4 linked regions of the Homo sapiens genome follow. The protein of the gene in region 3 purifies or fractionates together with the protein of the main gene of each other region. This does not show direct contact. Each region holds a gene or a part of one and is shown on either strand. Other genes may lie near its edges.

Region 1 (8,147 bases), about 33 Mb from region 3:
GCCAGGCGGACATGCCACTGCGCAGGTGGGAAGTTTGCCAGCACCCCCTGAGATGCTCCTGCCCGCACTCACCCTGGGAGGCACCAGGCTGCTGGCCCACTGCCTGGCCGAGCTGGTCAGAGAGCCACAGCTGCATGCGGATGAAGGGCTCCCGCCCCTTCTGCGTCAGCTTGCTCCATGGCTTCGGCCGGGACAGCATGTCGCTCACGCTGCCCTGTGACAGGCCCAGCACCTGCGAGGGGCGGGCCAGGGGGGTAGGTCAGCAGGCCCCTGGGACATGGGCCTGGCCCTCACTCTCCTCCCCAACCTTTTTTTTTTTTTTTTTTTTTTTGAGGCAGAGTCTCGCTTTGTCTGTCGCCCAGGATGGAGTGCAGTGGCACCATCTCAGCTCACTGCAAACTCCGCCTCCCAGGTTCAAATGATTCTCCTGCCTCAGCCTCCTTAGTAGTTGGGACTTGTACCAGGCTGGTGCACGTCTGGCTAATTTTTGTATTTTTAGTAGAGATGGGGTTTTGCCACATTGGCCAGGCTGGTTTCGAACTCCTGACCTCAAGTGATCCACCCAACTCAGCCTCCCACAGTGTTGGGATTATAGGTGTGAGCCACCATGCCCAGCCTCCCATCCCCTCCCCTCCCCTCTGTTGGAGTCCAGGCGGCCTTCATTTGTTCCTCATAGGTGCCTGCCATGTGCTGTTGCTGTGCCCTTCCCCTCCAGTACCCTCCCTAATGTCCCTACATGTAAAAATCCTTCAGTGCCCCCCTCCTCCAGGAAGCCTTCCCTGACCTCCCACTTAAGTCATTTCTCCCTCCTCCGAGCTTGCCTGGCCCTTTGCCTATTCCCTTGCTAAAGGTAGAGGTGACACTTAAAACTGGCATTGCAGGGGCACCAACCAATCAGGAAACACTGAGGTCCCCTGGCTAGGGTGAGCTTTATTTAACCCTTTCTTTTTAAATTTTTATTTATTTTTGGGGGGATGAGGTCTTGCTCTGTTGCCCAGGCTGGAGTGCACTGGTGTGATCATGGCTCACTGTAGCCTCGACCACCTGGGTTCAAGCAATTCTCCCACCTCAGCCTCCTGAGTAGCTGTGCACCACCACACTTGGCTAATTTTTTTTATTTTGTAGAGATGGGGGTCTTGCTACATTGCCCAGGCTGATCCCAAACACTTTTTTTTTTTTCTTTTGAGATGGAGTATCGTTCTGTCACCCAGGCTGGAGCACAGTAGCGAGATCTTGGCTCGCTGCAACCCCTGCCTCCCAGGTTCAAGTGATGCTCCTGCCTCAGTCTCCTAAGTAGCCATGACTATACCGGCACAGGACACCAAGCCCAGCTAATTTTTATATTTTTAGTAGAGATGGGGTTTCACCATGTTGGCCAGGATGGTCTTGATCTCTTGATCTCATGATCTGCCCGCCTCAGCCTCCCAAAGTGCTGGGATTACAGGTGTGAGCCACCGTGCCCAGCTTAATTTTTGTATTTTTTAGTAGAGACGGGGTTTCACCACGTTGGCCAGGCTGGTCTCAAACTTCTGGGCTCAAGAGATCTTCCCACCTCCGTCTCCCAAAGTGCTGGGATTACAGGCGTGAGCCACCAAGTCCTGCCACTTAACCCTTTAGTGGCTGGACCTCAGGCGATCTGGAGGGGCCTGGAGGAGGGGAGTTAAGTGGCTGTTTGCTGGCCAGGATGGAAGCATTTCCTGGTTTTAACAACCACGGAGCAGAACAGTGGCCCTCCTTCCTGCGGGACCCAGGGACAGCAGGACTCAGGAATGAAGGGCCTGGGCCCCTGGGGTCCCGCCAGCCTGCTTGGGTGGGCATCCTACTTCTCCGACATCTTCTCCCAGAGCCCAGACACCGGGGGCCCGCCCTGCACTCACCTTCTCCCCGAAGATCCTCTGGCAGATGCCGTTCTTGGCCAGCTTCTCCTTGACCTGGCGGGTGAGCTCCAGCGTGTCTACCTCACGGTACATGTACAGCTCGTACTGCTCGGGGGTCAGCGGCGGCACGGTGGGCTTCAGGGTGCGCGGCACGTAGGCCGGGTAGTAGGGCAGCCGCGCGCCCGCCTCGGCCGTCGCGCCCTCAGCCTTGAGCTCGCCCGTCCTGGGGGGTTCGTCCTCCGCCCCTGCCGCCGCCTCGTCCTCGGGGGGCACAGGGGCCTCGTCCCCGCGGGGCCAGGCGCGGCCGTTGGGCTGGCCAGAGTAGCCAGAGGAGGAGGAGGAGGACAGCGAGGGCGACACGGAGGCGTAGGGGCGGCTGAGCAGGCCGCGGTCGGAGGCCCAGTGGTGGTCGAAGTAGCCGGCGTCGCCGATCTCGGACTTGACCTTGCGGATGATGCTCTGCACGAAGGCGGCGGGGGACAGGACCGGGAGCGGCGCCTGCGCGGGGCCCCCGCTGCCCTCCTCCTGCTTCACCAAGGCCGGGGCCCCGTTCTGGCTCGCGGTGGCCAGTGATGGCCGCTCCGGGGGCGAGGGGGGCACCGAGCGGCCCCTGGGCGCCACCTCCATCTCCAGCAGCGCCTGCTGTTGCGCCTGCATCTCACGGCGTGCCTGCTCCAGGATGCTCTTGATGGCGTCCTCCGAGGTGCTGGCGGGGGTCGTGCCGTTGGCGATGCTCAGCGGGGCCACCGAGGTCTTGGGCTCGCCTGCGGGGAGGGGGACAGGACGGCCCGAGGCCCAGGGTCAGGGCTCGGCATGCAGGGGACGATGTTCACAGCATCCCTGTTGATGCCAGCACGGTGTCCAGGCAACCTCTGTGTCCAGCAACTGGGGATTGGCTAACTAAATTATGATCCCTCCCTGTGGCAGAATATTAGGCAGCCACCCAAAATTCGGTTGACAGTGAGGTTTTGGCATATGCAGAGAACATGCTCATGCGGATAATGCAATGCAAACACAGACCTGACTTTTGTTTTGTTTTGTTTTGAGATGGAGTCTCACTCTGGTGCTCAGGATGGAGTGCAATGGCACGATCTCAGCTCACTGCAACCTCTGCCTCCCCACTTCCAGCAATTCTCCTACCTCAGCCTCCTGAGTAGCTGGGATTACAGGTGTGCACCACCATGCCCAGCTATTTAGCTTTAGTAGAGACAGGGTTTTGCCATGTTGGCCAGGCTGGTCTTGAACTCCTGAGCTCAAGTGATCTACACCTCAGCCTCCCAAAGTGCTGAGATGACAGGCATGAACCACAGTGCCCGGCCTGACCTGACTTTTACATAGGCAATGATCCAACCATGTAAATGTTCAAAGACAAAGAAAACACGAAGGCACAGAAAAGTGGCTTGTTCACTTGTTCTGTTTTAAAAAAAAAATTCTTTAAAAATATTTCTTTCCTTCCTCATTTCCCTTCCCTTTCTTCCTTCCTTTCTTTCATAGAGATGGGGTCTTGCCATGTTGCCCAGGCTGGTTTCAAACTCCTGGCTTCAAGTGATTCTCCTGCCTGGGCCTCCCAAAGTGCTGGGACTACAAGCATGTGCCACCATGCTCAGCTAATTTTTGTATTTTTTGTAGAGACGGGGTTTTGCCATATTGCCCAGGGTGGTCTCAAACTCCTGGGCTCAAGTGATCTGCCCTCCTCAGCCTCCCAAAGTGTAGAGATTACAGGCTCGAGCCACTGTGCCCAGCCCTTCACTTGTTCTAATAGCAATGAATCCAAATGCCCATGCAGAGAATGGATCAAAAACAGTGGGATGGGCCAGGCACAGTGACTCACACCTGTCATCCCAGCACTTTGGGAGGCTGAGGCAGTCAAATTGTCTGAGTTTAGGAGTTCGAGACCAGCCTGGGCAACATGGCAAAACTCAGTCTCTGCAAAAAATACAAAAATTAGCCAGGCGTGGTGGCTCACACCTGTACCTCAGGGTCTGAGTTGGGAGCATTGCTTGAGCCTGGGAATTCGAGGCTGCAGTGAACCAAGATTGCACTCCGACCTGGGTGACAGAATGAGACATCCATCTCTAGAAAAAAAAATAGTGGGATGATCACACAATGGAACACTATGCAGCAGTGAAAAAGGAAGTCCTTATGCAAAATCAGATATGAATCTTTTTTTTTTTTTAAAAAAAGAGATGTGGTCTTGCTATGCTTCCCAGGCTGGAGTGCAGTGGCTCGATCTCAGGTGCGATCATAGCTCTCTGTGGTCTCAAACTCCTGGGCTCAAGTGGTTCTCCTGCCTCAGCCTCCCGAGTAGCTAGGACTACAGGTATGAGCTACCGTGCCCTTTGTGTGAATCCTAATAACATAATATTGAGTGAAAAAAGCAGGTGAAGGCTGGGAGCAGTGGCTTATGCTTATAATCCCAGCACTTTGGGAGGGTGAGGCAGGAGGATTACTGGAGCCCAGGAGCTCAAGACCAGCCTAGGCTACAAAATGAGACCCTGACTCTACAAAAAAGTGAAAAAAAAAAAAAAAAGAAAAAAGAAAAAAAAATTAGCCAGGCATGGTGGTGTATGCCTACGGTCCCAGCTGAGGCAGGAGGATCACTTGATCCTGGGAGGTCGAGGTGGCAGTGAGCCATGTTTGCACCACTGCACTCCAGCCTGGGCAACAGAGTGAGAGCCTATCTCAAAAAACAACAACAATAACAACAACAACAACAACAAAAACAAGTCCAATAAGATGGCACTCAGTATCACGTTTTCTTTTTTCTTTTTTCTTTTTGACTGAGTCTTGTTCTGTTGCCCAGGCTGGAGTGCAGTGGCGTGATCTCAGCTCACCTCAACTTCTGCCTCCCAGGTTCAGGCAATTCTCTTGCCTCAGCCTCCCGAGTAGCTGGGATTACAGGCACTCGCCACCAGGCCTGGCTAATTTTTTTTTGTATTTTTAGTAGAGATCGGGTTTCACCATGTTAGCCAGGCTGGTCTCAAACTCCTGAGCTCAAATGATCTGCCCACCTTGGCCTCCTAAAGTGCTAGGATTACAGGTGTGAGCCACCGCGCCCGGTCGGTATCACATGTTTTCTATCAAGTTCCATAACAAATAACATAAACACTATATGATTTAGTGAAAAACCTTTTCTACAAATGGCAAACACAAAGGAACAACAGGACAAAATTTTAGGATGAAAGACATCTCTGGGAGAGGAAGGCAGGGGTGGGATGGGGAGGAAAATGCCAGATCTCAGTTATTGGGAATTTTCTAAATCTTGGGTTGGGCAATATGTTCCCAGAGGTTCATTCTGTCATTTACATGAGTGAACGAATGAATGAATGCATGAATATACACACACATATATACACATATATATATATGCACGTGTGTACACACATACACACAGACACCTGAGAGAAGGCCATGCAGGCGGCAGCCCTGAGAGTGTGTCATGAACCAAGGATAATAGATGGATCTGTGCCCTGAGGAATGACAATTAACCAGTAAATGAAAAGGTGCTTCCCTCTGCCCTCAGAGAAGCGTTCCCGACACCAGAGTCTCTCTAGCTCTGCAGAAAGCCAGATCAATGTAACCCCTTCTTCATTATCTCTGTGTAGCTTTCATCCTAGTGGGTCCTCTTAGACCCATTAAAAATAATTTTCATTGCTTTTCCAATTAAAAAGTAATATAGCAATGGAACATTATTTTGTCATAAAAAGGAATGAAGCACTAACAGGGGCTACAACAGGAATAAGCCTTACAAACATGGGGCTGAGTGAAAGAGGCCAGACGCAAGGTAGCACATATGATATGATTCCATTTACACAAAATGTGCAGAACAGGTCAATCCACAGAAACAGGATGCAGATCAGTGGTTTCCAGGGGCTGGGGGGAGAGTGGAAAGGAGAAGCACTGCTTAATGGGTATAGGGTTTCCTTCTGGGGTGATGAACATGTGTGAACTGGAGAGAGATGATGGTTGCATAACACTGACTATACTAACTACTACTGAATTGTACACTTTAAAATGGTTAATTTTGGCCGGGCGTGGTGGTTCACGTCTGTAATCCCAGCACTTTGGGAGACTGAGGCAGGCCGATCACTTGACCTCAGGAATTTGAAACCAGTCTGGCCAACGTGGTGAAACCCCGTCTCTACTAAAAATACAAAAATTAGCTGGGCGTGGTGGCACGCACCTGTAATCCCAGCTACTCAGGAGGCTGAGGCAGGAGAATTGCTTGAACCTGGGAAGTGGAGGTTGCAGTGAGCCGAGATCACACCACTGCACTCCAGCCTGGGCGACAGAGCTAAAGACTCTGTCAAAAAAAAAAAAAAAAAAGAAGTGCCGGGCGCGGTGGCTCAAGCGTGTAATCCCAGCATTTTGGGAGGTTGAGGCAGGCGGATCATCTGAGGTCAGGAGATTGAGACCAGCCTGACCAACACGGAGAAACCCCGTCTCTACTAAAAATTAAAAAAAAAAAAATTAACCGGGCGTGGTGGCACATGCCTGTAATCCCAGCTACTCGGGAGGCTGAGGCGGAATCACTTGAACCCAGGAGGCGGAGGTTGTGGTGAGCCGAGATTGCGCCACTGCACTCCAGTCTGGGCAACAAGAGCACAACTCTGTCTCAAAAAAAAAAAAAAAAGCTTAATTTTATGTTATGAGAATTTTACCTCGATTAAAAAAAACTCATACTTGCCTACTATGGGAGCACAGAGGAGCATGCAAAAAAAAGCACAAAAAGTCAAGATCAAAATGAAAGTCACCCTTACTGTCTCTTAGGAGCAACCACGTGAAATATTCTCATGTATTCCCTTCCAGTCTGTTTTCTAAACTACATGCATCGCATGATCATACTCGATATGTGGAAGTGTAGTCTGGTTTGTCCCCATTTAGTATCAACATGAGTGTTTTTTTTCTTTTTTTCTTTTTTGGAGACAGGGTCTTGGTATGTTGCCCAGGCTAGTCTCAAACTCCTGGGTTTAAGCGATCTTCCTGCCTCAGCCTCTCAAGTAGTTGGGACTACATGCATTTGCCACTATGCCCAGCTAAATTTTTTCTTTTTTTTTGAGACCGAGTCTTGCTCTGTTGCCCAGGCTGGAGTGCAATGGCGCGATCTCGGCTCACTGCAACCTCTGCTTTCCAGGTTCAAGTGGTTCTCCTGCCTCAGCCTCCTGAGTAGCTGGGATTACAGGTTCCTACTACCATGCCTGGCTAATTTTTGTATTTTTAGTAGAGATGGGGTTTTGCCATGTGGTCCAGGCTGGTCTCCAACTCCTGACCTCAAGTGATCCATCTGTCTTGGCCTTCCAAAGTGTTGGGATTATACAGGCGTGAGCCACTGTGCCCGGCCCCATTTTTTCTTATCATTAAAAGTTCTACCTTTAAGGGCTGCACATGCTGCTAAAGGGATATTATCTGCTTTACTTACCAGATCCCCCACTGCTGGACACTTAGGTTGTTTTGTTTCCAGTTTGTCACTCTTATGAACAATGATGGAACAGCTTATATATAAACCCCTGTCCCCATTCTGGACATTTCCTTCCAATCCCAGAAGTAGAACTCGTGATTGAGCAGTTAGTCACATTCATTTCCTCCCTGGCAGCGGCTCATGTGCCCACTGCTTAGCATTCATTTTTTTTGCCAGGGGTATGGGGCAATAACCTTTGTATTTTTCCTCTTGCTGAACTCCTAGACCCTGAATATAAGACTACTGGCTGGCCCATGGAGAGCAAACGTTTTCCTCTGCTGCGATGCTGTCTTTGACATTGCCCTGGTGCCTGCTTCCGACCCCCAGGAGAAAGTGCTGTATAAAGAGGTGAGAGACCTGGGGTTTCCCTCTGTCTCTGTGTAACTGAACTCATGTCTTCCCTCCCTAGCCTCAGTTGTCCTGTCGGTTTAGTGGGAGACTTTGGCTAGTTATTTCTTTTTCTATTATTTTTTTTTGAGACAGCATCTCACTCTCACCCAGGCTGGAGTGTAGTGATGAGATCTCGGCTCACTACAACCTCTGCCTCCTGGGCTCAGGTGATCCTCCTGCCTCAGCCTCTTGAGTAGCTGGGACCACAGGTGTGTGCCACCACACCTAGCTAATTTTTGTATTTTTAGAGGAGATGGGGTTTTTTTTTTTTTTTTTTTTTTTTTTTTTAGACTGAGTTTTGCTCTTGTTGCGCAGGCTGGAGTGTAGTGGTGTGATCTCCGCTTACTGCAACCTTTGCCTCCCAGGTTCAAGCAATTCTCCTGCCTCAGCCTCCAAATAGCTGGGATTACAGGCACCTACCA
Region 2 (8,461 bases), on a different chromosome or scaffold from region 3:
TGCAGGAGGCTGCGCTGTTGGATTTCTCCTCGGGGTGAGCAGGGCCGGGCTGTCCTGCCGGCTCTGGAGCGCATATGCCGAGCCAGCGCGCACTTGGGTAGGGCTAACTGCGTTCAGCTTTGGCAGGAGCTCTGCTCTTCCTCTGCACCCAAGGCCACTTCCTCCGTTCCCCCACCCCAGACCTTTTGAAGGCCACTGGTGTCTGTCCATTATGAAAGGAGCGCGCCAAGCCCGAAGAACAGAGGAGAGCTGACAGCTCCCGGAGAAGTCAGGTACTGGGGTCAACCCTGGAGTTCTGGGACCAGATCACTTCCTTTGCAGAAAAGTCTTTCCCGAAGCCCAACTGGCTGCTTTTTTCGGCTTCCTTGGAGATCTCCTTACGGCCCCCTCACTCTGGAGAGCCCGGCACCGTGCACAGGCATGCAGTTCCGAGCGCCCTCGCCCCTCAGGGCCCACGATTCGCATCCACTGGCCAGTTGGCTGAGGGTGGCCGCTCAGAGTTTGAAGTACACATATCGGGCCCCACGCGAGTCTTCCTGTGGGGTCTGATCCAGGAGGTATCGGTCCAGCTGCCTAAGGGGTCGGGACGGAGCCCACCGTCCCGCCTCCGAGGCTTGGGTGGAGCCCAGAGGGGCGCTCCGCAGCATTCATTCCTTTCCCCATACTCTCCTCGAGGTCTCTCCGCCGAGCAGGACTTCGCTCTCCGCTGCCTCCCTGGGCCTCCCTGGAAGGTCGGTTTCTCCTGTTAACAACGCATCACCTCCGCCACCCCCACCAAGCGTACGGGAGACACCAGGTCCTGTCCTAAACTCTTCAAAGACATCATCATCTCCTTACCGCCTCCTTATGAGCCCACTGTATAGACAAGGAAATGGAGAGTTAAATGATGTAAGCAAAGCCACGAGTAGTAAGGAAGGACTGAATTCAAGCCCAAGGCGGCGCGACCTCCGGAGTCCGAGCTCTTCCCCGCGGGAGGCTCAGGCTCCGGTTGCCCGAGTCTCTGCCACCCAGAGAACTTCCAAGCAAAGCTCTGATCCCGGGCCCAACCCTGGTCAGTCGGAGGCCACACGCCTGCCCGAGTCATCCCGCGCCCTCGGCTGCCCGAAGACCAGTCTCAGGCAGCCTGTGCCTCTTCTCCTCTCCTTGGCGAACCCTCGGGTCTCGCGGAAAAGCAGCGGCTGGCCCAATTCGCAGAGCGAAGTCGGGGCCGGAGCCTTGGAGAGGGCGGCGGCTTCTGCGTGGGGTCCGAGGACAAGTTTCTGCGCCTCCACCAACTAACTGGTCGGCGGAGCTGCAGTTCTTTGCCTGGTGAAGTTTGCTGTGGAAAACCTAGGGAGTTTATTTATGAGGAAGGGCATCCTGAAACTAGGCAGTGTTCGGGAAAGATGAGTGGGTAGAGGAATAAAACTCATATCAACAGCGACAGTGTGGGGGTTTGCCAGAGGGGAGGGGCTGCCGGGGGACTGGTGGGGGACTTTAGAAACTCCACAACAGCAGCTCCCGATTGCCTCTGACGACGACGACGATGACAGCCTAAAACAATAGCTACTGTTTGTGGAGGGATTCCTAGATGCCGAATTAGCATTTTACAGGTATTTCTTGGTTTAAACCTCACAGCAACTCCATGAAGTAGTATTTGCCTCCACTTTCTGGATGAAGAAACTGAGTCACTGAGAGTTCGAATCATTTTATCAGGACTTCGGGCTGGGCCAATATTTGAGGGACCAAGGATGCGAGCGCAGATTTGCCCCACCCCAGAGCCCAGGCGGGTGTGGAGAACCGCAAGGAAAGAGCACTCTCAAGGATGCGCAAGTTCCCCTTTCTGATCCAAGGGACTTAATTTTATCCCGAGGGACTCGATATCTCTCTCCAGTAAAACAAAACAAAACAAAACGGCAACAACAAACAGCGTCTATCTTTGCAAAAAGTAAAAGAAAAGCAGCGACGCCTGGGAGTGAGGTACTGGTACTGAACACAGGGAGCGCCGGGGAGGGCCGTCGGGTGCACCACCGGGCTAAGGCGCCCATCTGAGAGCTTCCTGCAGGGAAGAGCAAAGTGGTCCTAGGGGTTGGAAGCCCTCTAAATCCGGGCATCTTTGCCTCTAACATAAGACACTTTTGGCCCTCGGCCTCCGGGGACAGAGACTCATCCAAAACAACGCTTCTTTTGGAAGGGTCACAGAAAACGGCCTCGCCTGCGTCCTCAGCTTTGGGAGGAAAGAGGAGACCTGACCATGGTGGGAGCCAGCGACGGGTCTCACCACCCGCAGCACTGAGGCGTCAGGTGGGCGGCGCTTGGCTCTGCCAGGAAGCAGTATTGGCCAGCAGTACTCCGAGCTGTCTCCCACGCTCTAGACTATATTACCCGAGAAAGTCATCATGAGAAGATATTCTTAAATTAAAAATAAAACAAAACTGGATATTCATCCCCTCACAGGGTGCTCCAACTCAAAACTCAAGTGCACTATTTCTTAATTACCTGATTTTTCCTGATTAGTACCGAAAAAAATAGACCCTGATCAGCCTGGCCATCATGGCGAAACCCTGTCTCTACTAAAAATACAAAAATTAGCCGGGCGTGGTGGTGTAAGCCTGTAATCCCAGCTACTCAGGAGGCTGAGGTAGGAGAATCCCTGAAAAAAAGAGGAACCCAGGAACGACAGAATGAGACCCTCTCAAACAAAAACAAAAACAAAACAAAACAAAACACGCTAATTTAATTTTAAAAGTGAATTCGAATCATCCCACTGCCAGAAAGGTTTGAAACAAAGTGAGGAGAATCAGTTTTCATCTCTTCCCATATTATCAGTATTTATTAAGCATTTCCCACAAACATAACCCGAGCACAAGGCCCAGACCTTGAAAAGAAGACAGACCTGGGATGCACAGACCTGTTTGTAAATAACTGTTAGGTAATTTTTAAAATGTTAAATAAGATAACTGGTTTTCCAAACCCTCCAATCACATACGTTTTCATAATTTCTAAAGATGTGAAGGTCATACTGGCTCGTGAATAGTTGTTGGTTTCCAAGGCGCACCAGGCCACTGTGCTTGTCTTCAGCACAGCCTCTACCTCGGAACAGGAATTACGTCCACATCCTAAATAGAAAGTTCCGAATATCTTTGGTTTAGTGGTCACCCAGGGGTCCATCTTTCTCCCTCACCCCCAGATCCAGGCCCGTCCCCCCTTGCCTTCCCTGCCAGCAGTGTGGAACTGGAGCACAGGGACTCTTGCACTGCTCCTAAGCCAGCCCTGCCGCTGCTCGCCCTGCCTTGCAAGATGTTCTCTTCCTCAGAAGAAAGGGGTGCAAGTTATAAGATGTGCAGTAGTGAAGTGTGCAGCTAGAGAAGAGGAAGAGGAGGGATGAGAAGGGGAGGTAGAAGGAGGAGGAGGAGAAAGAAAGAGGTCAGGAAGAAAGAGGAGGAGGAAGAGGAGGGAGAAGAAGAGGAGGAGGAGGAAGAGGACGGGGAAGAAGGGGAGCAAGAGGAGGGGGAGGAAAGGAGAGCACGTGGAAGAGGAGGAAGAGGAAGAGGAGGGAGAAGAAGAGGAGGAGGGAGAGGAGGGGGAAGAAGAGGAGGAGGGAGAGGAGGGGGAAGAAGAGGAGGAGGAGGAGAAAGAGGAGGGGGAGGAAAGGAGAGCAGGAGGAAGAGGAAGAGGAGGGAAAAGAGGAGGGGGAGGAAAGGAGAGCAGGAGGAAGAGGAAGAGGAGGGAAAAGAAGAGGAGGAGGAGGAAGGGGAGGGGGAAGAGGAGGAGGAGGAAGAGGAGGACTCACTGTATTCCACTGGCATCAATTTCACGGGATCTTTGAAAACTCAAACATTTCCTTTCAATTATTTCTAAACTTAAAGGGGTCGCCCGAGTAAGAATGGCTTTATGGCAGATTAAGGTACTCGGCCCAGCTTCCCCGCTGTGTGTGTTAGGGAGCCTTCCAATGTGTATGGTACAGTTTCCATTGTCTTTGAAGAGCCGGCTTCTCTAAACAGGTCCCAAGGTGGAGTGCTGTAGGAGGGCAGGGATGTGCGCAACAGCCACAAACAACGCCAATCCAGTATCACTAAAAGAGGGCCCCAATACTACAAAAACCAATGGCTCTTTTTCTTCCGGAAGGCCTGCCGGCATCTACCCGCGGGGCCCCAACTGGCACATGCGCCTGAGAGAGCGGGTTTTCCCCTTCGGTCTAAGGTGGGCCCCGCAATTGCCGCCCCATTCAACTGCCAGGGCGGGTGGTCCACGCCCGGGGTCCTCCTAGGCCCTCTGCTCCTCCTCGGCGAGTGGTTGAAGCCCCTCAGCCAGGAGCAGCTCCTGCCTCTCATCGTGGTTCCTGCGGCCGCCGAGGCGCGACGCTGGAGGGCTGTGGCGACGCGCTAAGGCCAGGCGGCAGGCGGCCCTCTCGGGCGGCAACGGGGGCAGCGGGCGGCACAGCACCTCCGGGGGGCGGCGGCGGCGGCAGCGCCAGAAGCTCCTCGCCGGAGGTCACGGCGCAGTCCTGCTCAGGCTCCGCGACCCCGCCACCCCCGACAGCTGTCCCGCCGCCGCGCTTCTTGTCCTCCTCCTTTTTCCACTTCATGCGGCGGTTTTGGAACCAGATCTTGATGTGTCTCTCGGTCAAGTTCAACATGACAGCCAGCTCCACCCGGCGCGGCCGTGAGATGTACTTGTTGAATAGGAACTCCTTCTCCAGCTCTAGCAGCTGTGCGCGCGTGTAGGCCGTGCGCGTCCGCTTGTTCTCCTCCGGCTCCGCAGCGTAGGCGCCGCCTGCGGGCGACACAGGGCGTGAGTGTGGCCCCCGGAGCCCCGCACAGCCCCCACCCACGCAGCCCAACCCCTTCAAGGGGGGCCAGGGAGCCCTAGCCCTACCAGCTGCTCCCGCCGGAGCCACCAAGCCCCAGCATCCCATTTCAGCGCCTAGTGTAGGCGCGCGAAGCTCTTCCCTAGTAACTCAAGCCCTTCCTAATAAAGATAGCCTTTTTATTGGAGACCAAACTCGAGTCAGCTCTCGCCGTGAGCCTAAGCTTGGCTCTGCCAATGAGTGGTCCTTGAATGCGCTCATATAATCGGTGTTAATCAACTGATTGATGTTGATTTAAATGTATATAATAGTTAAACCGGCTGGATCCTACAAAGGCAATAAAACGCCTTTAATCCAGGGCTAAAAAAAACCTCCTGATGGTGACCCACAAATGTGAGAAATACATTTCGGATCGTTGTGTAGTTCACACACGGACACTGCAGGTCAGTTATACTGACAAATCTTAAGGACATAAAACAAACGTTTACCACGTATGATGCTATCTACTTTTCTCTCCATTATCTGCTATTTCGTTTAAAAAATACTAATCTCAACCTAGTAAATTGATTTTATGACCTGCGAATGGGTGCAACCTGCAGTTTGAAAATCTTTGTGCTAATGGAGACTGTGACACATTTTGTTATATCTGACCATGTGTTTCCTCTCTCTATAGTTATATCGTAATTAGTCCCAACCTGAGAGCCAGCAAATTCTCCATAATTGTTTTAACTTCAGCCGGACTTCTGCCCGCGAAGTGAAGGAATATTGTTCTGGGGGTCACGTTGGCCAGGGCAGAACTCTGGCAGCTCCAGACTCTACGCCCTGGATCCCAAATGCCCTCAGAGGTGTTGAGGGGAGACACAGGGGCCCTAGCCCAGCTGCAGAACCGACAGCCCTACGGAGGAGGTGGTAGTGGTGCAGAAACAAGCCTCTCGTGTCTCCAAGAGGCAACAGGACGCCCTGGCCCAGGAGGTTGGAGACCCACATTCACTGTTTGCCGCTGCGCTCAGCCAGGTCCCAATCTTTTCTTTTCTGTGGAAAATACTGACTGCACCCAGGCTGTGGACGCTGGCGCGGGAAGTTCCACCAAAGTTCCGGGGAGAGGCTTGTCTTAGAGCAAAGGCAGGGGACATTTCTCCTGTGAATGTTGGCTAAGCCTTAAGGAATTGAAAGGCGAGTGTGTGTGTGTTGGGGGCGGGTTTAATTTCGCGATGGAACCCTACTGGGTTTCCCCCCAGGTCGAGAAGAGGCGCCAGAAGCTGAAGCAGAGGCTCAAACCCTAGTCCAGGGAGAGTTCTACTCCCTGGGGGCATCCCCGAATCTACCTGGCATCCCACGCCTGGGAGAGAAGCGAGACGGGCCTTCAATAAACATTTTGAAAGGCTCTCCAAAGTTTTTACATTAAACCGACATGTCTCTGGGTTCCTGCCTTAGGCTGCGGGCTTCGTATAGTCCCTGCGAGAGGGCTTCGTGAAGTCCCTGCGAGAGACTGCTCAGGGAGAGACTTCCTGGGGTGCACTATTCCCGGGGGACCTGTGCTCAGCGCGACGCGGCAGGGGTGGAGGTTGAGGATGGTGGGAAAAGGTCAAGGTCGCCAAGCCTGGGCCCTTCCCCAAGGCGCAGAGTGATGCAGTTTAGGTGCCAGCTGGACAGCGCTGCTGAAGCATTTGGGGGTCAATGTTTTTCAAAACCTCTGTTGTCATTAGCATTCAGATTCGTACTGCCAGTGAGAGCCCTTTTGTCACTTCGCTCTTCCCAGGGGCAGGTGGGTTTGCAATTTTTGAATTTCGGCTCCATCGAAGTTTCCCCTAGAGGAACGCGGGGATAGCAGCCGGCCCCGCAGACGGCTTCCAGGGGAAGAGAGGGGAGGTCGTCTCCTTCCCCGAGAGTCGAGCATGCAGCGGGTTAGAGGGCGCCAGCAAAGGCCTGGGGCCAACTCCAGCCCGAGAGTGTCGCCCTCCTTGGGTCCCCGAACCCTCGCCAAGGCTGCTGATTTGCCTTCTGGTTTTACTTTCTGGCTTCTTGGGTCAGCCTAAGCCCAAGTCCTCCAGAGCAGAGGTATCACCCCTTGGGTTGGGATAGGGAAGTTACTCCACCTCACAAATCCTCTTTCGGGACCCTGATGTCGCCCATTTCCTGAGGAAGGCCCAGGGTGGGAAAGCAGGAGCTCCGAGGGCCTAGGAGGCCAGAAGAGAGGTCTGGAGGGGAGGCAGCCCTGGAAGAAAACTGGGTGAGGACGAGGAGCCCCCCACCTTTGTTCGAGGGACTGTCCTCCCGCCTCCTAAGAACCCCGCATTTCCGGAGACTTCAAGGCCTTTGGCCCGGGCTGCGCGAGCTGGATAAATTTGCAGAGGCGCCGCGGCAGCTTCTGGCGCCCCTGTCAACTGGGTTTCGCTGGAGGTGGGGACGATTGCAGCGCAGTTCAGCCCTCGTCCTGCCTCAGGACCTTCGCCTTAGCAAGAAAGTGAACTAGGAAGAAGAGAGTCCCGTGGACCCCAGGCAAGCTGGGGTCCCCCTCCCTCTCCCGCACAAAGCCCCTCCTGGCTGCGCCTGGGGTCAGTGTCAGGCAGGGCTGGCCAGACCCCGCAGATGGGCGCTGAGGATTTTCGGGGTGGGCCGGGGGACGCCGGCTCGAGCTGCTTCCCCCTACTCCCGGCTGCCAGTTGAAAGGAAAAGGCAACTATTTGCGGTGCAGGTGTGACCAGAAGTGGCTGAGGCACGGCAGCGATGACAGTGAGTAGCGGCGACGACACAGGCCGCGCCGGAACTTGCCGCTCGCGCGGGGCCGCAAAGGACCCGGGGGCTACCCCGTGCCTCCGGCTCCCGGCTCCGGGAAAGACCTTCTGTTCTCTGCCGGCGCGGAGGGCCGCAGGAACCAGGCCTCTCGCCTCCCCACCAGCTAGGCAGGGAGCGCCCATCTCCTGAAAAATTACTTCCTGGGAAGCGGTGCGGGGAGACAGCTTCAATTGCTTTCGGTTGGTGAAAAACGAATTCGCTTCTCAGATTGCTCTCCTAGCTGCCAGGCTCTGACGTTGAGAGGCCGGCTTTCAGCCTCGCGGTGAGCCCCCGCCTTGCCCCAGCCCCTTCCTCTTTACTCCTATCCTGTTTCCACAACCAGGGCAGCCGGACACTGCTGGGTTGGGTGCAGTTTCCTTTCCCTCCCTGCCTTTCTGCACCTACCTGGCGCCCCTAGATGCCTGCCCTTCCTTAACGAAGCGCGGGAAGTGAGGGGCTCCGGGGCTCCGAAGGCGATCTGGGGCCTGGGTCCGAGGCACCCATGTCCCTACTCGGCTTCCTCGATGTGCACTACCAAGGAGTCCTGGGTTCCCGGATCCCCTGCTGGAGGAGGATCTGTAGTGTCCGAAGCCCTGAGCAGGACTCAGCCTCGGCTCTCTAAGGATGGCGCTGGGAGCGCGGGCTCCTGGGGCGAAGATGGGCTCAGCGAACAGGGAAGGAAGGAGTGTACACTCCCAGGAGAGCTGGGTGGGAAAGATGCTTCAAACTGGACTAGAGAAGCACTGCTGTGAGGGATGGGCTCGGTAGCTCCCTGATGTAGTTTAGTCCGACCCGGGATAATCCAAGGCGCCGGGAACAGAGAGAAGGCTCCTGGGAGCGCTTGGAGGTAAGGCGGCCGGGTGAGAACCGGAAAGGAGAAAGGGGTGGGGAGCCAGG
Region 3 (8,147 bases):
ATATCAAATTCGGATGATAGCACAACATTCTTACCTCCTTGTGACAAACTGTAACTCATCTTTTATGCCTTACCCTTATCTTAACTTCTTGGTGATGCATTAGTTTACTCCATTTTGCCAGATTTGTAAAAAACCCTCTTTTTTTCTACATTAATTGTGTATGTTGCATACACTTCCATAACAGTAATGGTTTAATATTTTTGATGATATTGTTCTTACTACCCTTAGTAGACTGAGCTCCCAGAAGGCAGAGATTTTTTTAAAAAATCTTTGTATCTTCTGTTACACAGTATTTGTAGAATGAGGGATGAGTACATAAATGAAAAAGTATGCAGCAATTTCCCTTTGCTTAAACTGTAATAACTGGTCACTTTGCCACTTTTTAAATACTTCAGATGGCCATCTTAACACTATAAAAAGCAGCCTATTCCAATTTCAGGTAGCTCTAGTTATCAGGAACTTCTTAAACCAAAATAAAATATTTTCTTTAATTCTTGACATTTTGTCTTAGTTATATCTATTTGATAAATGAATAAGAATAACAGCAAATTTGAAACTACTTTATCACTCTGTAGAGATAATTGAATTACTGAAACTATGTACAGAATAATTTATATTAGATAGGAAGTTAGGCTAATAGGAAATCTATTAACTTCCAGAATCCACATTATATTTATAGAACTCTGAACACCCAGTGTGTGACAAAGAGTACTATGAAGCATTTATTGAAGTCTCAGAAGGAATAAGTACTGACCTAGAATTGAGAAAAAAAGTCACCATCAGCCATCAATCTTCCCATTATATAAAAGTTATTTAATTATATTTACATATCATATATATATGTATCTGTATACATTTATATAATTTATACTAATTAACAGCAATTACCATTTTCAATTATAAATGAGTTCTGATTGAGAATTTTGCAAGTGTACTATTGGCATTTTCCTAACCAGAATTTTCTCAGTAACAATACCTCTTATTTCTGTCACATAGATAGAACTGATAAGCAAAGCAAATTTCTACTAGCTTTATGATCTGAAGAGATTATTACTATTCTGACTTAATATCTCTGCTTCTTCATTTCTGGAAAATGGGGGATGACATTTTTTCTCATGAGTTCATGATGAAGTTTAAATGAGAAAATTCACATATATTTTGTGACACAAAGATTTTCACTAAGTAAGCACTCAACAAATGATAATACCAACATCAAAAAGTAAATTATTAGTCTTATCTCATCAAATGATTAGCAACTCCAAAAATAATTGTCAGGGATTTTATAGGAGGGATTCTTACATGGGGATAGAACAGTGAAAGTCAGAAAGAACATAAAAGGTTACATAATCCAAATGTCATGACTCTATAAACAAGCTTTTACTGAAAGCTGAAAAGAATGAATATTAACCACTCTGCCTTTTGAGGATTTACATATTATTTGTAAAATTGTTCTGCATTGATTTAAAAACTTTGAATGAATATTACTTTATATATAGACTTCAATGTGAAATTTTATGAGACAGTTTTAATTTATTTATTTATTGTAGAAACAGGGTCTTGCTCTGGTGTACAGGCTGGTCTCAAAGTCCTGGCCTCAAGTCATCCTCCCACCTTGGCCTCCCAAAATGCTGGGATTACAGGCATGAGCCACCATGCCAACCATAGTTTCATTTATTTTTAGCTATCTTATATTGTTGATAATAATAAAAATAATTACTGATATTCATGTAATTTGCTCAAAATCTGGCTGTGTGCTAAAAATTTTACATGGGATTATTTTCTTTAATCTTTCATACAATCAATCGAGGTAGGCATCCTTTATCAATCATACTTTATAGGATTAGAAAGTGAAGTTTAGGGAAGGCTGTTTACTATGTGGCAGATACTGTTCTACAGATAAATATCAACTCAATCTTCAAAATAGGCTAATGAGGTAGCTTCTACAATTATCATACCTATTTCACAGATTAGGAAATTGTGGGTCAGAATCTTTACATATATGACCCAAAGTAACACAACTGATCAGTGGTGGCATTGAGATTCCCACCTAGGCAACCACCACCACAAGATGCTGTTTCTGAACAATGGTAGAGTAAGACATATTCTATCGCCCTTTTTTTCTCTTTTTTTTTTTTTTTTTTTTTTTTTTGAGTTTCCCTCTTGTTACCCAGGCTGCAGTGCAAATGCACGATCTCAGCTCACTGCAACCTCTGCCACCTCCTGGGTTCAAGCGATTCTCCTCCTGCTTCAGCCTCTCTAATGCCTCTTTTCTTAGCTACTTGGCTACACTGCCTCACTTTTATAGTCTTGTTGTTAAAGAGGTCAAACAGAAACTCAAAGAGTTTCTCAAAGAACTCATCAGGTTCACACAGCGGATCCACACTGTAACTTCTAAGCTGTGCTGCTGTGCTGCTTCCTGTTTTTGATATTTAAAAGTTACATTTTCAAATGGAAACCACTAAATTTGTTTCCACTGGATATTTTATTGCAAACAATTTTTTTAAAAGCTTGTTGCTACTTATAGAAAGAAGCCTACTAAATTAGCAGTTCTAGATTTACACTTTCCTATGAAATTCACTTGTGATTTTTTGAAAGGATTGATGTTTTTACAGAATATATTTGTAATCCAAAAGTGTGCTGAGTATGACATATTTAAAACTTCATGATTTTTTTTCTCACGTTTTTGAAATGTGGATCATGATTTTGACATCTTAAATTCTGCTTTGTCAAACAGGGACCCTGGAGTCAGAAGGAGCTGCAGACTCCCATCTGATCCAAATACAAGTATTTTAAATGAGTTAGTACTATTGAAGTCAGAATAGCAACATTCAATTGTAATGTCCCAAGAGCTTAAATGTAATAATTATAATAATTTTGTTTTGCTGAGTGTATAAAAAACCTCAGAAAAAAAGCACTTACATTCCTCATTGAGCAAAAAAATAAATCAGTATAAACTGCTTTATTTTAAAAACTTTTACATTCAAAAAATTTAATAAAATTTTAAACTATATAGTTTTGACCCTTTCTTAATTATAGTGGGTCCTGCTTCCTATTCATAAAATTTTCTTTCTGTAGTTAAATTGCCAACCTGCCCGAAAGAGGGACAAAGCAGACATTATTGCTCCCCAGGCCATCTCCTTACCAACCAAGCAGTGAATAAACTGGGGACACAGCAGTTACTGACATATCTCTAATCGATTAAAACAAATCACAGAACAACAAGCAAAGTGTTGTCTTTACCATTTGGATGGTAGGATGCATATTTTAAAATGCATAATAATGCATTTAAAAATTTTATATTGTGTATTTCAATGCCTACAAAATAAGAATGCAAAGTAAAATAAACAATAAATAAATAAAAGGTAAAAAAAAAACAAATCAGTAATACAACCCAAATAAGTAATACAAATTATATATGTAACCCCTTTTACCTAGAAACCTATGCCTTGCTGTGGGAAATTAATATAAAATTTACACTGAGAAAGTAATATCTTATAAATAACATTTGAAGAACATTTGCAACACATCAGGATATACAGTAAACATGTTATATGCATGACCTCTGTTAATAGTCTCAACTCTACAAAGTAGTGCATGGTTCCTATTTGACAGCTGAAGAAAATGAGACTAAAGAATGTTAAGTAACTTTCCCAATGTCTTATAGCTGAAAAGTGGCAGAACTAGGAATGAAATCCGCAACTTTATCATTTCAGAGGCTGCCTCTTTAACCATTATGGTATACTTTCTCCCAAAGATGACAACAAAAATAACCGTAAACGATGTAAAAGTGAGAATTATTTTAAAAGTCTGCCGCTAGTAATAGAAGCAGTATAGTAGTAGCAATAATATGAATAAACACAAGAGAAAGTTGTGGCATCTGGTTTCTAGCTGGCTTTTGATAACAAGTAATTCAATTTTTGAAGGTCTCAATTGCTGACAGGGAATGAGAGAGGGAATAAAACTAGATCCTACTGGAAGTCTTTTTCCAGACTAAGATTCCGCACTGAATTCTAGGCCTCTATCTTTAGCATGAAACTTTACTCCAAAATGACGACATAAAGCACCACTTTATCAGCCTTCCCTATTACACTCTGAGTATGTAGGCCTGTAAATATATTTACAACTGTGGATAAACAGAGGCCACCTTACCTGTAAATGAATGGTGCCACTGTCGCGGTATTCGGGTGGCTATGTTGCTGCTGTTGAGGGAGTTGGACAGCACCATTTCCTGTGCTCTGCCCACTGCTTTGTGCCACTGTCATGGTACAGGAACCAGAAGGAGAAGCTTGGCCAGCTTCCCTTCCTTCCAAAGGGGCAGGACAACTAGAAGCACTTGCTTTCTCCATGGTTATAGGCTTAGATAAGGACTGGGAAGGGCTCCCCTTGGTAGTCCTGAATTTCTCAGACTCTTTGCTTGCTGTGCTGCCAGGTGAAATGGTTTGCTTTACTGTTGGAACTTTAGAGCCTGGTTTTGGAATACCACTGGAAGACGGAATTAAGCTTTCCTTCTTAGCTGCTGTTGTCTTGCTGCCCTTAGGGATCAAGCTTGCAATTTTGGAGGTCTTTTTTGGAGCCATCTCTGTCACCTGATCCTTCTCTTCTTTGACTGGTTTTTCAGTGCAAACTTTATTTTTGTCCCTGTTCTTTTCTTCTTTTTCCTTTGGCTGTAGCAAAGACTTTTTATTGCTGAGATTTTTGCTTCCAGCTTTTGGAGGGGCCAACTTAGGTGACACTTTGGGACTGCTATTTGTTGAGCCACCACTATTCAGACCACTGTTAAAACCTTCCATTTCACCAGATTCAGAAAAGGCATCATCATCCTTCCCACCATCACTAGGTCCTGAACTGGGAGGCTGCGGGGGGCGTAAAGCAGTCCGGGCATTGACTAGCTTGAATTTCTCAAGCATGGATTTCTGTCCTGAGGGAGCAGTTTTGACCCCTTCTGAGACAGGTGGCTTCAGTCTGTCTGAAGATGGTGTGGGGGAGGTGGCTGTACTTGACTGCTTTACAGTCAACATGGTGGAGGTGGCACTGTGTTTGACATTCATGGACTTGCTGCGCCAGGGCTTGCTGGCACTTGGAGAAGGGATGGCAGAGGCAGGAGGCTGCCCAGCAGTACTGGGAGGCTGCACGTTACCATTTACACCTGAAGACGATTGAGGTCCTTTGGAGGAATCTGGACATTGTTTAGAAGAAAAATAAAGAAAAGGCGATTAATCTTGATCATTTATATTACATAATTGAGAACTTCCAAACTATTGATGGATAGAAGTCTCTCTCCTCTGAACTGAAAAGAGACTGCAGCATCAATCACTTCTCTGATGTGATTTTTTTTTACCATATTTCAAAAATGCAGAGTGTTTGAGAGGCATTGATTCTGGGGTGGGGGCTGTGGGGGGACGTGTTTATTTTCCCCTCTGAAATTACTCTTACCCAAATAAATTTGCTAGTCACAGATATCCAAAGATGAACAAAACACTATCCCTCCTCTAAGCAATTCTCTTTGTTATTTTCCAACCACCACTGTAGCCCATGCTAGTAAATGGATATTCCACCTTGCCCTATAAAAATATGTTGTATAATGCTTGAACTCGGGAAGCAGAGGTTGCAGTGAGCTGAGATCTCACTGCTGCCCTCCAGCCTGGATGACAGAGCAAGACTCTCTCTCAAAAAAAAAAGTTATTTATGATATTTCGCTTTATTCTATAATGAATATAATATGAATAATTATTACAAATATAATTATGCTAACTGACATTTTATTGAAGGTTCTCTAACTGCATTATTTCACAACAGCCCATTGAAGTGGGAAGGGCTCATATTCCTAATTCCCATTTGTAGAAACCAGAGCTTAGTAAGCTTCATTCAATGATTTAGGTATCTAATGAGGAGTGTATGGTGGAGCTAGGCTTTGACCCCACATCTTGTCACTCTACAGCCCAAGCTCTATAATTTTCTTGGAATGTCAAACATTCTAAGTGTTTACCACAGTCATTCTCAAAACTTTAATGTGCACACATGATACTTGGGGATCCTGTTAAATGCACATGTGATACAGCAGGTCTGCAGTGGGCCCTGAGGTTCTGCATTGCCAACAATCTTCTGAATGATGCCGTTGCTGCTCACACACAAGTCATACTTTGAGTAGCAAGGGTTGAGTAGACTCACAAATTCTGAAAACTGTTGGCCTTTTCAGTTTTAAAGGGCTGTTTCTTAACACAGTCCCCCAAATTGCTAAATTCATTAAATGTTTCATAGCTATGCAATATTAACATTTTTTACTGAACTTTCAGAACCTTGGCTAGCTCTGAGTTCACCTGGATGTTTAGCAGTTTGCTTCAAATAATCTCTAAAACCAAAATAAACTCTTCAGGTTCCCCTAATGTCATTTTTTCTCATCTCTTTGTCCACATACTTGTTATGTATCTTCTGTGCATCTACAACTAGGTTAAGAAGTAAGAGTGTGCCTGGGAGCTTCGGTGGGGTTGATCGGAGAGGGTAGAAAAGAACCAGTCAGGATGCTTTTTTAACTGGCTGATGAACAAGGGACATAAGAGAAGGTGCTCTTTCCTTAGAAAAGAGAAACAAGTTGAAGACATTAGCTAGAAGACTGCTATAGAAGTTCAAGTACAGAAGAGGAATTTCAACATCACTGCACCCAAAACTGAAACAAGAGGGACTCTGAATTATGACATCCACATCCAACCCACAGTAATAGTCATAACAGCAGCTGTAACATCATTCTCAGGCGAGTACACACATATAAGATACTTCCTGAAGCTCCGCTCTAAATCTGTCCACAGCCTGTCCCTATACAGAGGCAATGAGATGCTTCAGATTTCATTAAGAGGGCAAATCATAGGTTGTTGTGCATCAGGAAGGCACTGGAATAATAAGAGTCTCTCTGGACTCCTCACAGTAAAGATTGCACAACAGCAGCTGAAATGGCAGCACCTGTAGTTTCTACAGAATGAATGTAGTCACAAATTATAATCGTTGCCATTTATATATTCAGGAATAAGTAGCCTGGTCTCAATGACATATTTCTGAATGTTGATTACTCAACTTCTGACTATGAATGAATCTCAGCATGGGGAAAATAACAGATTTCTAATGCACATATTTAAAGGCATTCCAAAAATGGATTTGTATCTTGCATTTTTATGGGCTATCTCTGCTTACAGCCTTACCTCTTGTCTATGGTCCCCAAATAGCAATTTGCTTCCACTCCCTGTCTTCTGCTTCCTCTTCTTATACCTCACCTACACTCACCATTGCCAACTCCACCATAACCAAATAATATTATTCATCTACTGCTTACTTTATTCCAAGTACATAATAAGTACTTCATACATGGTATCTCATTTAAACCCATAATAATCTACAATATGCTTATGATCTCTCTTGTTAAAAATGAGAAAATGAAAACTTAGAAAGATAATTTGTTTTCAATCATACATATGGCAAAACTTAGAAAAAACAAAATCTAAATTGGAACTCATTTTTATCTGACTCAAACATTTGGAAGATTTTCACTGTCTCTTCTTTCCACATGTTTACTGCATGCCAGAAATTCTGCTGAAATGGCTCTCCAGCAAGCCACATTTATCGCACAGTCAAGTTAATTGGGTAACTCCTTGTTTTCCTTCTTCCTTGGTGAGCAGGATATAAATGGGGAGAACATCACACAAGACACTTTATTCAGGTATTATATACCTTCTTCTTTAGCATCTTACTTGCACCTGTTCCTCTGAGTTGATGTGAGAATAGATATTCGTTCACACTTGCAAAACATCTAAATTCACAGAACTAATGTCTAGTTATCTCATCTTGTAAATAAACAATATTGATGACTTGGGAACAATGCCAACCAAGTTCTAAAATTAATACATGGATGTAAATGTGGCAGTCACAACAGGCATATGGAAAGTTTATAGTGGGACATTTCTCTCTGGAACCTCAGTTAGCTGTAGAGTTAGCACCATGTTACCAAGAGTGGTATCAGTCTGAGAAAGGACATAGAGATGATTCTTAATCGCTTATCTCTTTTTCCTCACTGAATAGTGCGTTGCTTTGACAAAAGTAAACTAGGTTCCAACTCTGAAATATAATAAGTGACAACAAAAATGATGACAAAAGCACCATTC
Region 4 (6,016 bases), on a different chromosome or scaffold from region 3:
GCTCTAGCCCATTGCTGCCATAAGGCTCCAGTGTTGCCATTATCTTGTAGATTTTTTAAGAGACAATGGAAATCTAGATTTTCAGATGTATTCTCCACATTTTTTAAAGTAGGCAATTAATTCAAATGTTTTGAAAGTACTGCAAGGGCCAAACCAAACAGATCTATATGTTTGCATATGACTGCTAGTTCCTGCCTTCTGACCTAGACATTCCCACTACTACCTCCATCCCTATTTGTCAAGTGAACACGAGGTCCAACAAAGTCAAGGGACTCGCTCAGAAGTGCAGAGTTCTTAAAAGGGCTGGCAGGAGATCCTGGGAGCTTTTCTGACTTTCTGGCATTACATTTACATATTCCTTTTGTACCCACAATGGATAAAATGCCCTCTTCTCAGGAGTTCAATAAGCCCAAGTTTTACTCACTATTGCAGGCCACTGTACAATTCGTTCAGAAATTTCAGGTGACTTTCGTTCAGCTAAAACCAAATTATGTTCTACTAAAAATGCTCTCCTTAGAAGGCTGTAGACTTCTATCCATCTTCTTTTCCTCCAAGATTCCCCATCAAATTCCACACACACCTAGACAGACAAAATTGGGGGGTGGGGGAAGCAGATTCAATTTATTAAAATAAGCATTACAAATGCCCCAGCTGAACTATACCTTCATTATTCTATTTGAATCCTTTATCTGGATGTGCTTTCCCCCTTCCAGCTCCCTCACTTCCTGTCACAGCCCACAATACATAATCACACATGAACCAGGCTTTGGCTCCCAACTCACTTCGGGATGCAGAAGTCAAGGCTTTTTGGGCCAGTCTGTGTCCCTAAAGTAAACCCCTGGGAAGCCCAGAAACCAAACAACCCCTACTTATCAGGCGTTTACATACATTAATTAGACATCTGAGCTTTTGGAATTGCAAGACAAAAATTTGAAACTCAAAAGATGTACTTAATAAAACTGCACTGTAATTGTCTATTGACAATATAAGTGGGCTTAAGATGACCCCCCATCACCACAATCCACCACCTCCTTTTGAATTCCTCTGGAATGAGTAAATTTAGCACAAGGCCTAATATACAGCACATCTTCAATATCCCTTTCAGTTGAATAAGCTAGGAAATTTACCACAGAATTTGGAGTCTTAAACTACTTGTTGGATAACATAGAAACGAGTGATTAACAAAATGACCACAAAGTTTTTCAGAACTATCTCTAGCTTCTTATATGAAAGTTAAACTACCTTGAAATATTGTTTTCCAAGTAATTGTAATGTTTTCTGCTTCTGACCTGCATAATACTTTTAACCCTAAGGCTACAACTCTTAAAACCTGTATACATATTTAAAGACATTAAGAAAATTCAGTCTAAAAGTGGGCTTCTGGGAGTGATCTATGAGTAGGAATTGTTTACAAAACCATAAAACTCAAAGTCATATAAAAGCATTGAAACACTCCAGCTTCCTTAACCTATTATAAATATGCTACCCCTTAACTTACTCTAGGTCCTCTTCAATGCTTTTTGTATTCTACCAATGACAATAAACTCCCTCGATATTCAGTGTAAAAATCACTGTTTTTATTTGATTTAAAATTCCTCCTCTTACTAAAGAGGTCTCTCATTTTGGTTTCCAGGAATTAGTTAATACATCTATCATCTATCAAATCTGTTCATCATTTTACAGACATCACTCATACATCCCTTTTCAACCTTCAGTTTATTAACTAGTTAACTTCATCTATCAGAGCACAATTCATATATCCTTTCCTCAAACAAACCTTCCCTTACCAAAGTGCCTCTCTCTCCCAAGAGAGGTCCCCATACTAACTGTACTCAAAGTTTTGTACTTTTCCGTCTTAGCTCTTATCCACACTTTGCATTATTTATTTGTTAACTGATTGACAATTAAATTCTAATAGGTCAAAGTCTGTCTCTGCTTTTGCTTACAACTGTATATCACTAGTATATGGAATCTAATTGGTACTCAAATACTTGTTAGCATAGATTAATGAATAAATTTCCCTCTGCATTGGGTTCCTATCTTGTTTCTCTCACCTGCTTAGAAGGCACTAAATTCCCACATTAGCCCCAATCCCAAACCTTCTCCAGTCTACAGGATAAAAATAAATGAAATCTAAGATCTATCCTACCCTTCTCAGCCAACAAAACATGCATCCCTAACCTCCCAGGCGACTTTACCTAGGAAACTACATATCTTCTTGGTATTTTAGGCTTTTAACTTTGCAGTTATTACTGAATACTTTCCAAATCAGAATAAATGTGAACACCCACGTGGCAAGGCCCACATACGTTTCTCCCTGGTTATATGTTTTCTATCACTGTAATCAACCAAATGGTCTTTCATAAAGGTGGGCAGAGACTGCCCATCTTCCTTTCTGTTTCCTAGCCACAGAATCCATATGCTCTGACATCTCCCCTAAATTGGCTAGTCTTTCTGCTCCATATTCACATCAACCTCAAACCCAACCAAGCTTTAGGTAGACAGTTTTCTTATTTATCAGCAATGTGGTATAAGAGGAATGAGCACACACAAATTCTAGATCCAGATTCAGAGACCTTGAATTCCCAGCTACACTGAATCTCTCTTAGAATGATTTTACATGTATAAAATAAAATACTTATGATTACAAAGGAAACCAACTAACTTGCACCCCAGGTTAAGAACCCTCACTTAGAAAATCTAAGTTCTCTCAATGTTTTTCAAAATGAAAAAAGTGACACCTCTCATTGCATAGTTAGGCATATTTTAAAAGACAGTGTATGTAAAGTGTCTGGCAAGACAACTAGGTAGTTTTAATACCTCCATGGTTAATTCAAATCTTATCAAGGTATCACTTATTAAGTTAGGAGCAGGGGAAAGAGGATCTTCAACACAATTATCTAATATCTATTCAGCAAAAAAAAAAAAAAGTGCAGAATTAAGAAGGATTAAGATCTTAAGTGGTTTCCCAAAACTTAAGCAACATCACAGTTCTTACCAGATCACTATCTAAAGCTTAAGATAACCCTAAACCAAAAGACAGACAGGGCCCCTTTCCATATCCCAATTTTTGAGTGATTTGAAAAAAAAAAAAAAAAGTTTACCTCCTTAAAAACAATTTAAGTTTATGACTTTCAAATATTATGCTGTATTAGCCAAAAATCACATTATTTTGGTTTGGAAAAAGATGACTTTAAAAAATATATAAGAAAACCAACAAGTTGTGAGCTTTCTTCAATATTGTTCAAAAGTTTCCTATCAAAACCATATATGTCAGTCAGGCATGGTGACTCACACCTGTAATCCCGGCACTTTGGGAGGCCAAGACAGGAGGATCACTCGAGTCCAGGAGTTCTAAACCAGCCAAGGCAACGTGGGGAAACTTCGTCTCTACAAAAAATACAAAAATTAACCAGGAGTGGTGGTGCCCACCTGTGGTCCTAGATATTCAGGAGGCTGAGGTGGGAGAATTGCTTGAGCCAAGGAAGTTGAGGCTGCAGTCAGCTATGATTGTGCCACTGCACTTCAGCCTGGGTGACAGAGTGAGACCCCATTTCCAGAAAAAACAAAGCATCTTTCATTTGTGCCTTAAGGTTTGAGGTTTTACACTTAATGACATCCCCCAAAAAAGCTTCTTCTGTGGACATTTCTACAAAAAAACACTTATTTTATTTTTTGAGACAGAGTCTCAATCTGTTGCCCAAGCTGGAGTGTAGTGGCGCGATCTCAGCTCACTGCATCCTCTGCCTCCCAGATGCAGGTGATTCTCGTGCCTCAGACTCCCAAGTAGCTGGGATTACAGGTGAGTGCCACCCACACCTGGCTAATTTTTGCATTTTTAGTAGAGACTGGGTTTCACCATGTTGGCCAGGTTGGTCTTGAACTCCTGACCTCCTGACCAGATGATCCACCCGTCTTGGCCTACCAAATTATTGGGATTACAGACATGAGCCACTGCGCCTGGCCTAAAAAGACATTTAAATTCAGTAAGAACTAAAGTGACTTGACCAAGCTCATGCAAGCTGACAGATGCAGCTAGTTTCTATTCTAAATTGTGTTATTTCACCCATGCTCCTTTGGCCCACAATGAGATGTGACTTACACTGTGTGGCTTCAAAGGCCAGAGTCAACTATGATTCACTACCTATAATTGTGAAATCTGCTCTTCTTTTAATGGGTATTTTGCAAATGTGTACCTTATTAGTACCTATGAAACACCTTGACCAAATGCTCGATATTTCAGATTTTTCAAGCCAATGTTTCCCCAACAGAAAATCTTTCTGATATATGAATTAATATTGTATCTAATAAACTAATATCAAAATCTCCCACTCTTACCATACTCTCATCTCACCTGACTATATGATTATAAAGGCCATCAGAAACACCAATGAAAATGTTTCCAAGTTTAAAAGCAGGAGCACAGAATGATATGGTTTTTAGACAAATTTTTAATTACATGTCTATTTTATGCCTTGCACTACAATGCAGGATACCACTTAATTCACTACTCCACAAAGAAATTAATTCCTTGTGCTTCCACTTATGTCTTCTTATGCCTAAATGTTTGTCGAAGATCCCAAGGTCCAGCATTCAATTAAAAGGGGTAAACAGTTTTTATACCGTGCTAGAAGTTTTTTCATTTTACATGGCTTGACTGGCAGCAGATTGCACTAACATTAAAGTTTCAATGGTGTGCAAAAATGAAAGGCTAGGCATTAGTCAAGGCACCAAATTGCTGACAATAGCAGGAAATGGTACATACAGATGGCAAGGACTAATTGCCTGCTAAGGACACCTGTAAGGACTAAGAAGGGGCATTAGACGCAAGAAACAGGTAGGCTTCAAAGAAAAAAGGACAAGTTAAGGAAGCAGGGCATTAGACTCAAGAAAAAGGTAGGCTTCAAAGAAAAAAGGACAAGTTAAGGAAGCAGGGCATTCCCACCACGCATAATTATGTGAACAAAATCAGCTAGGAAGCAACTCATTTCATACTCAAGTAGAAAGAGCAGGATAAAAATAAGATTAAAGCAGTCTTTATAGCCACATCTAATTAAGATCTGTTGTTATTCCAGATGAAGAGAATGCTACTGCCTCATCAGTAGATTCTTTCTAAACTGTTTCTCCATAGGAGAGGTAATAATTTTATGATTCCTTCACTTATCCATTCAAATAGCTGAGCACACACTACATGCCAAGCAGTGTTCTCGGTGCTAGGGATATAGAGGCTAGCAAAATAAAATGCTCTAACCTCGCTCTACCTGAATATTAAAGCCTAGTGTTTAAGGTCTGGAGACAAACTCAAGTTATTTAACTTCTTTAAGCCTCAGTTTTTGACACTAAAAATGTAGTTTACCATCTAGGATATTTGTGAGGATTAAATGAAGTAATCGCCACATAATATCCATTTAATGATTATTTTTTCTTTGCTAAATCCTGATGTAACCATTTAATCATAGTTATCCACTGTTATTATGTCTTCACCTTAACTTCTCTGTAACCAACTACTAGACATATTCTCTTTTTGTCATCTAAGTAAGTGGTTTTGTTATAAAGTCTCTCTAGGTGAAACAAAGTTAACAAGCCTTGGCCTCATTAATATCATCCATAACTATCTAAACAAGCCAGTCTAGACAGACTTGTATTTGTCCTAATAATAGAAGAATGGTTACATATTACTTGAATGTTATTTATTGACATTCATCTCAGCCCCTCGCCCCACCCCCATCTCACCCCCCAAAAACTTAATGCCCCTAAACCCTAGTGTAAGCATGGTCTTAGTTACTTGGTTCCTGCCTCCATCTCACCAAGCACAAATTGGTTTTGGTGTTTTGAGCCCAGGAGTTCCAGACCAGCCTGGGCAACAAGACCCCCCAACTCTAAAATCAAGGTAAAATAAAATCCTGGTTTTTTTTAATGCAACATGGCCCCCAAACTTAACATCTGCTACTCAACTAAGGAATGCAGTGATAAATCATGACTAGAAAAGAGACAGAAGATTGGCATCTTACATGAG

What was found.
Region 1: the proteins of NAV3 (region 3) and CUX2 purify together in Homo sapiens (affinity purification with mass spectrometry; one large-scale study listed by BioGRID and IntAct). This does not show direct contact.
Region 2: the proteins of NAV3 (region 3) and PDX1 purify together in Homo sapiens (affinity purification with mass spectrometry; one large-scale study listed by BioGRID and IntAct). This does not show direct contact.
Region 4: the proteins of NAV3 (region 3) and KDM3A purify together in Homo sapiens (affinity purification with mass spectrometry; one large-scale study listed by BioGRID and IntAct). This does not show direct contact.

What each region holds. Positions count from the first base shown.
Region 1 is NC_000012.12:111,314,506-111,322,652, reverse strand, and holds part of CUX2 (homeobox protein cut-like 2), read right to left. Parts: intron 7,684-8,147; exon of another isoform or gene 7,561-7,683; intron 2,642-7,560; coding exon 1,878-2,641; intron 233-1,877; coding exon 73-232; intron 1-72. UniProt on the Homo sapiens protein: Transcription factor involved in the control of neuronal proliferation and differentiation in the brain. Regulates dendrite development and branching, dendritic spine formation, and synaptogenesis in cortical layers II-III.
Region 2 is NC_000013.11:27,920,550-27,929,010, reverse strand, and holds the end of PDX1 (pancreas/duodenum homeobox protein 1), read right to left. Parts: intron 4,756-8,461; coding exon 4,310-4,755; 3' UTR 2,698-4,309; downstream 1-2,697. UniProt on the Homo sapiens protein: Activates insulin, somatostatin, glucokinase, islet amyloid polypeptide and glucose transporter type 2 gene transcription. Particularly involved in glucose-dependent regulation of insulin gene transcription.
Region 3 is NC_000012.12:78,003,448-78,011,594, reverse strand, and holds part of NAV3 (neuron navigator 3), read right to left. Parts: intron 5,177-8,147; coding exon 4,150-5,176; intron 1-4,149. UniProt on the Homo sapiens protein: Plays a role in cell migration. May be involved in neuron regeneration. May regulate IL2 production by T-cells.
Region 4 is NC_000002.12:86,444,371-86,450,386, reverse strand, and holds part of KDM3A (lysine-specific demethylase 3A), read right to left. Parts: intron 581-6,016; coding exon 425-580; intron 1-424. UniProt on the Homo sapiens protein: Histone demethylase that specifically demethylates 'Lys-9' of histone H3, thereby playing a central role in histone code.